2 linked regions of the Homo sapiens genome follow. The protein of the gene in region 1 interacts with the protein of each later gene in a pairwise test. Each region holds a gene or a part of one and is shown on either strand. Other genes may lie near its edges.

Region 1 (3,500 bases):
TTGTTCCAGAAACTAACAAAAAGAGGGAGCATATATTAGACCTTCAAGACCTCTTTAAGTCCTCTAAATCCATGCCACTTTAAAACCTCTTGCTATGTGCTGCTAAGAGTAGCAAGACTCTGCCCACTTCCCTACCTTTTTTTCTCCACTCTTTTAATGCTTTATTAATAGCTGGAAACAAAGCCAACAAACTGGAAGTGATGACATCCCAGAAGTTCAAAAGAGGAAAGAAATGGGTTCACATTTTGTTCACCAACGGTCTTTTTAAAAAATAAATAAGTGCAACTTAGCAAAAGTAAATTTAAAAAGAAAGGGTCAAAGCCCCAGAATCAGGTGAATCAGGGGAGTAACAGGCCCTCTGCACCACAGTCTTCCCAGGATTGTCTCAGTGGAGCTGCCACTGCCCCTTCCGACACAGGCTTTATCAATCCAAACCCTAATTTTGTGGCAGCAAGGCCTCCCTGCAGTGCCCCTTAAGTCTCTGAAACTCCCACTTGCTCTAACGATTATAATCCTGGGTCAAGCCTTAACTGTCATTCTCTTTCCCTAGCTGAGGTGGAAAGTTGAGGAGTGTAAGGGGAACAAAAGTGTTACCCTGAGCCAGAGTATCTGAGCTTCCAAACAGTTTGGTCTGCCAACTGTTCAGAAGGGAGTGACGGTACAATGTACGAGGGCACCCCCTGTGCTCAATTATCCAGAGTGTCAGTTGGCAATTGTACATTTGGCTTGATAAAAACACATCAAAACCCTGTGGTTTCAGAGATCCTGCTATTCTTAGGTCTGGCCCAGGTAAACCAGAAAAGAGATTCCTCCTGCCCCAGAAATGACGCTGGGAGAAAGAATCTGCCTTGGCTTCAGGGGTCCAGAAAGCTTGAGGACTGAGGTGGGGGGATCCAGGGCATGTTCCAGATTCAGGCCTTTGGGATGAAACCCCAGAAACTCTAGAACCTGTCATCAAAGCCTCTTACATTAAAAGGGGAAAGGGGGAAGGAAAAGTTGTTTTCCTTTAAATTTTTTTCCATCCAAAATATCCATTTGCAAAATAACTTCTCAGCCATGAGTCTCTGCCTCCCATTTCCTTGGAGACAGGGGATGAAGTGTTAAGATGGTCACAATACAGCCCATATCCCAGATGAGATGCACCAGGCTCTGGGGGCAGGGGTATGAGGAGTGATCTTGGTTCAGCAGCACAGAAGGTTCAGAGAGAAGGGCAATGGCAGCAGGCTGGGAGCAATGTTCTCTGCTGGTAAGAGTACCTTTCCAAACTTAGTTTATTTTAAGAACAGAAGCCCTATAAATCCATCAAAATGTTTAAAACTCAAAAAAAGCCTTTGCTTAAGTGAACAACAAATAAAAACATTTTTCACATAACTTGTTTTTCTTCCTCCCAGAAATTGTAGTGCTTAGACTCCTATTTCATTAAAATAATAAAATTAAGGAAGCCAACTCTTCCAACTGCTGTGAGAGACTACATAACTACATATATTCTGCAGAAGCCAGATGACTATCCAGAAGGTAAGAATCAGGTTAGGACACCAACCACCAACCCCCGAGTCTTACACATGACATCCCTAGGAGAGGTGGCCTAATGTGTGTGTGTCCAGCAGACCCTCTCCCCATCACTGCTCAGTCAGCAGCATATAAGTAAGCAGAATCTGGGGACTTCTTTACCTCCCTGGTGAACAGTAACAGATCAAGTTAGCAATCACCTTAAAGGATATATTAGAGGCTTCAGACTCAATTTTTAGAAAAGTATTTTTGTCTTTAAAACAAAGTGATAAAAAGAGAGTAACACCATTTTACCTCGATCCATTTCCCTTCTCATAAGATAAACTTGTTTAAAATAAAATTTCTATCAGCTACTCAGAGACCTCTGGAGATCTAAAAGAACCAGTGATTCATATTTTGCTACATTCTCAAATTTCCATCTTTTGAGGGCCAATTAACCAACTAAAACTTAACACCTCAATACTGGCAAGGGTTCTACAAATCCTGGAAGTGAGTTGGACAGCTCAAATGTGAAGCATGAATTCATCTGCAATTAAAAGAAGGCTCTACCTTTCCACCCCAGGGGACTATGCTGAAATAGCCTTACCTCTGAGTCCCGCTGAGCCCATGCGTGCCTTCTCTTGTTGGTACACATCTCTCTGCTGCTGAGTAAGTGTCAAGGTCTGCCCTTTGCTCTGGTATGTAGTACAGTACTTAATTACTTGTTCGTAAGCACCTTTCATAAAACAAATCTCTGGTCTGTCCTAAGAAGAAAATGTACCAAACACAAGTTTAATTTCAACTTGTACTTACCTGCCATTGGAGTCCAAAATTAAGTGGCATTCATTTCTCATAATTCCCAGAGAAGTTACTCAAGCCTAAGGTTTTGACTGCCACCTGAACTCTGAAGATTAAATATTCCTATAGGGGAGCTTTCTGTATCTTCTATAGAAAACATCTATCCCACCATCCCACACATAAAAGGCAATGCTATACTAAGCCCCAAATTTGGCACTCTGAAATGTGGAAAGAGGCTCACTGCAACATAACAGGAAATGGAAGAGAAATAACAGCTCACAATGGTTCAAGTTCTCTATTAGCTACTATATACGTCTATATCTATCTACCTAAAACACCATTTAATTCTCCCAATCACACTGTATTTATGGGTATTATCGCACTTTTTCTTTTATTTTTTGTCATGGTAAATAATCTTCAAAAGCTTATAATGAAATACTGCAGTTTCCTGTTCAACGCTTCTCACCACTAGTCCTACTCCATGGAAGCAAAATAATTTTAACTCTCTTAGCTGTTTTCTCTGATATTTACCCTCATGTTTTTAACATGTTTATACTGCTACTCCATCAGTTATCAATTTTATACACTGTCTATTGTGACAGATGTTAATTTCCCCATTTCCACTATCTATTCCCCCCCTCCCCATCTTTATGATATAGCTAAAGCAAAATCTGCCAGTATTTTGTTTACAACAAGACTCTTTGCTGCTAAGCCAAGTGTGGTAATGACTATAGCAGTTCACAAATATCCCAGTTCTCCTGGGAGGCAGGAATGTATTTCCCTATTGCCGTCCTCACTCCACAACGGTCAGGTATGACTTGCTTTGGCCAATAAACATGAGTACTTGTGTCACTTCCAAATGGAAATGTAGGTGCCAGTGCACAATTTCCTATTCTTCTACCCCTGCTGTGACAGTGTGTGCTCACATTAAAATGGAGCTTCCATCTGCCTGCATTCCCAAGTAACTACAATGAGCAGATATTTGGGGACAGGGAGGCAGCAGGAGAGCATGATGTTGTTTTCATGGCCTATCCTGATTGATAGCTCAAATAGGATACTTCTTTTCCTGTTCAAGTTTTGTCTTTTATAAAGTTAATAACCACCTCTTTAATTTGTTTTCTGTATACCTATCATTCATTCTTCCTAAACTCTTCAATGTAATATAAAACCCTTCTCATGGTATTTTTTCACAACAACAAAGAAGCAGATAAGCT
Region 2 (3,500 bases), on another chromosome or scaffold:
CTAAAAATACAAAAATTAGTCGGGTGTGGTGGCACGCACCTGTGATCCCAGCTACTCGAGAAGCTGAGGCAGGAGAATCAACTGAACCCGGGAGGCGGAGGTTGTAGTGAGCCGTGATCACGCCACTGCACTCCAGCCTGGGCGACAGAGTGAGACTCTGTCTCAAAAAAAAAAAAACAAAAAACAACAGTGGTCCTACTCTGGCCCAAAGGGGCACAGGAGGCTTGAGCCTCACATGTCCCCACCACCCGCTCCTTGGTGGCCCCTGGGGCCCTCCAGGGCTCTGTGGTAATCCACACACTCACATTACCCTCAGCTGAGTCTCACAGCCCTGCAAACCTAGTGTTCTGTTCTCCCACTTAAAGATGAACAGGCAGGACGCAGTGGCTCACCCCTCTAATCCCAGCACTTGGGAAGCTGAGGTTGTGGGATCACTTGAACACAGGAGTTCAAGACCAGCCTGGGCGACATGGCGAGACCCCCATCTCTACAAAATAAAAAAATTAGCTGGGTGTAGTGGCAAGTGCCTCCAAGCCCAGCTACTTAGGAGGCTGAAGTGGGAGAATCACTTGAGCCTAGGAGTTCAAGACTGCAGCAAGCTATGATTGCACCACTGCACTCCAGCCTGGGTGACAGAACGAGACCCTGTCTCAAAATAATAATAAGAACAGATGAACAAACCAAAGCCCAGAGATGTGACATCACTCGGCCAGCCCTGTTCCGTTTGATCCTAACTCCTGCTCCTGCCTGCAACAGTGGCTTCACCACCTTCCTTCCCTACCCTCAGAAGTCCTGCTCTTATTTCAGGCAAACATGAAACTTCTACCCCAAGCAAAACAGCTGCAGGAGTGAAGACCAGAGACGCACCACCAGGAACCCCAGACTCCCACAGGGTGGGGATACATAAGATGATGGGCAAGACACCCCAGGGCACAGACAGCTCCCCTCCCTGGCACCGCCCTCAACCTCCAGCTGTCCTGGCCCCATAGCCTCAATTACTCCAGAGCCCACCTGGATGGCGGCGGGAGGATCGCATGGGGCCAGAGGCCCGGAGGGCAGCGGCAGGCAGGTGTAATTTCATCGCGGGGCTCACAGTATGAGTCACCAGAAACAGAAGATGAAATTCCAGCTCTGAGGGCGGAGATGAGCAGCTCCCCCGGCTTGGGGTCAGCTCTTGATGTGGGGGGTGGGTAGTGATGGGGTGCAGGCCACAGGCCCCCCGCCAGCCAGATGGTGCCTTTGTGAAAATGAGAAAGAGGAACCACCTTCTTCTGGGGGGTCCCGAGCTGATGCAGGGCCGGCCAAGCCGGTTTGCTAGATTTCCCTAGAGAGGAGAGTGGCTAGAGGTATGTGGCATATCCACACCATGGAACACTACTCAGGGACCAGAAGGGACCAGCTACCCGTGTACCCAGCAATGCCGTAAATGCATTATGCTGTGTGAAGCCAGATTCAGAGGCTGTGGACTGTAGGATTCCATTTATGTGACATTGTACAAATGGAAAACCATATACAGAAGACAGATCAGTGGTTGCTGGGGTCAGGACAAGAGACAAGGATGAACAAACGGGCTTCAAAAACTTTTAGGGGTTACAGGATTGTTCTAACTCCTGGGGTCAAGCAATCCTCCTGCCTTAGCCTCCCAAGTAGCTGGGGCTACAGGCACACATCACCACACCCGGCTAATTTTTTTTTTAAGAGACGGGGTCTTGCTATGTTGCCCAGGCTGGTCTCAAATTCTTGGCCTCAAGTGATCCTCCCGCCGCAGCCTCCTGAGTAGCTGGGGCTACAGGCATGAGCCACCTCGCCTGGCTAATTTTTGTACTTCTTGTAGAGATGGAGGTTTCACTATGTTGTCTAGGCTAGTCTCAAACTCCTGGCCTCAAGCCATCCTCCCGCCTCAGCCTCCCAAAGCGCTGTTCTATGTCTTGACGGGGGTTGGACGACATAAGGGTGTGAGCCAGGCAAGTTCCTGGTATAGCATAGCCTTCACTCCTCAACGATATTTTTAATAAAATATAAAGTGGGGCCGGACACAGTGGCTCACGCCTGTAATCCCAGCACTCCGGGAAGTCAAGGTGGACAGATCACTTGAGATCAGGAGTTCAAAACCAGCCTGGCTAAGATGGCAAAACCCCATCTCTACTAAAAATACAAAAATTGGCTGGGCGAGGTGGCATGCACCCATAATCCCAGCTACTCAGGAGGCTGAGGCAAGAGAATTGCTTGAACCCGGGAGGCAGAGGTTGCAGCGAGCCGAGATCGCGCCACTGCACTCCAGCCTGGGTGACAGAGTGAGACTCCATCTTAAATAAATAAATAAAATAAAATATAAAGTGGGCCCTTCTCATGTGCCAGCCGGGGGCTGGGGACCAGGACCTAATGAGACTCCCTCAGGCCTGACGCCTCTGCAAGGTCCTCACTGGCTGGCGTAACAACAGATGGATAGACGAAAAGATACGGACTTGCTTTGATGGTGGTTCTGCCAGTAGCCAGAAAATGCACCTTGAGACCCTGCTAGACCCCAGCCAGCAAAGAGGCCTACCCTCGGCCAACCATCTAAGACACAAACAGCCTGGAGGGTCTCCCCTCTGTCACAGGGAACAGGAGGGGAAAGGGCTAAGCTGCCCCCTGCTTACCTACCCTCCCCAACCATGCAGCCTCTTCTGCATCCTCAAGTGCCCAGGACCGCAAGCCCTCAAGCCAGGCCCTCCCACCCTGTCTCCACCACAGACCTGCCCCCGGGGGTCCCACACACCCATGCTGTGGCATCCCCACGGGGTCACACCAAGTCCCTTGGACTACAGCACCACACTGGGACCCAGGCAGGTTGGGGAGAGCCATCTCCCTTTTACATCCAAGAAAACTGCCCAGGCGGGCGGAAGGTGGACGTGGACCCCATGACCCCGGCCCCTTACTTTCCCCCCATTTCCCCCACTCCAGAGGCTGCAGCTCAGGTGCTGGGAACCTGCCTCAGGTGGCAGCATGGCAAAGGTGCAGGAATTCCCAGCAGCCTCCGTGCTGTGGGGTCAGCCCCTCAAGTCCACAACCGCCCCCGTGGCGGGGTCTCCCAGCTTTGAAAGGTAGCCATTGCAGACACTTTCCCAGCACTCAGGCCTTGCCAATCCTACATGAAAATCTTACTTGGTGTATAATAGGGTGTTTCCAGCAATTTCCCACCCCCTCCTCCCAGCATCTCTAAATATACGGACCACATTGGCCAGAAATCCCTGAAGACAAGGACTTCCCAAACTGGGGATCCCTGGGCACCCCTCAGGCCACCTAGACTACACCCTCCATGCCACCCAGGCCAGTAGGAGATCTAGACCCTCGAGCCACAGGCTGGAGGAGGCCCGACCAAGGACATTAGAAGGATACTGCCTGTAATCCCAGCACTTTGGGAAGCTGAGGTGGGAGGATCGCTTGAGGCCAGGAGCTTGAGACCAGCCTGGGCAACATCGCAAGACCCCATCTCTAAAAAAAAAAAATTTTTTTTTAAT

Evidence for each region. The genes of interacting proteins can lie anywhere in the genome.
Region 2: the proteins of ATP2C1 (region 1) and GTF2IRD1 interact in a two-hybrid assay, tested with the Homo sapiens proteins (one large-scale study listed by BioGRID).

Annotation. Positions count from the first base shown.
Region 1 is NC_000003.12:130,974,084-130,977,583, reverse strand, and holds part of ATP2C1 (calcium-transporting ATPase type 2C member 1), read right to left. Parts: intron 2,253-3,500; coding exon 2,096-2,252; intron 1-2,095. UniProt on the Homo sapiens protein: ATP-driven pump that supplies the Golgi apparatus with Ca(2+) and Mn(2+) ions, both essential cofactors for processing and trafficking of newly synthesized proteins in the secretory pathway.
Region 2 is NC_000007.14:74,460,406-74,463,905, reverse strand, and holds part of GTF2IRD1 (general transcription factor II-I repeat domain-containing protein 1), read right to left. Parts: intron 1-3,500. UniProt on the Homo sapiens protein: May be a transcription regulator involved in cell-cycle progression and skeletal muscle differentiation. May repress GTF2I transcriptional functions, by preventing its nuclear residency, or by inhibiting its transcriptional activation.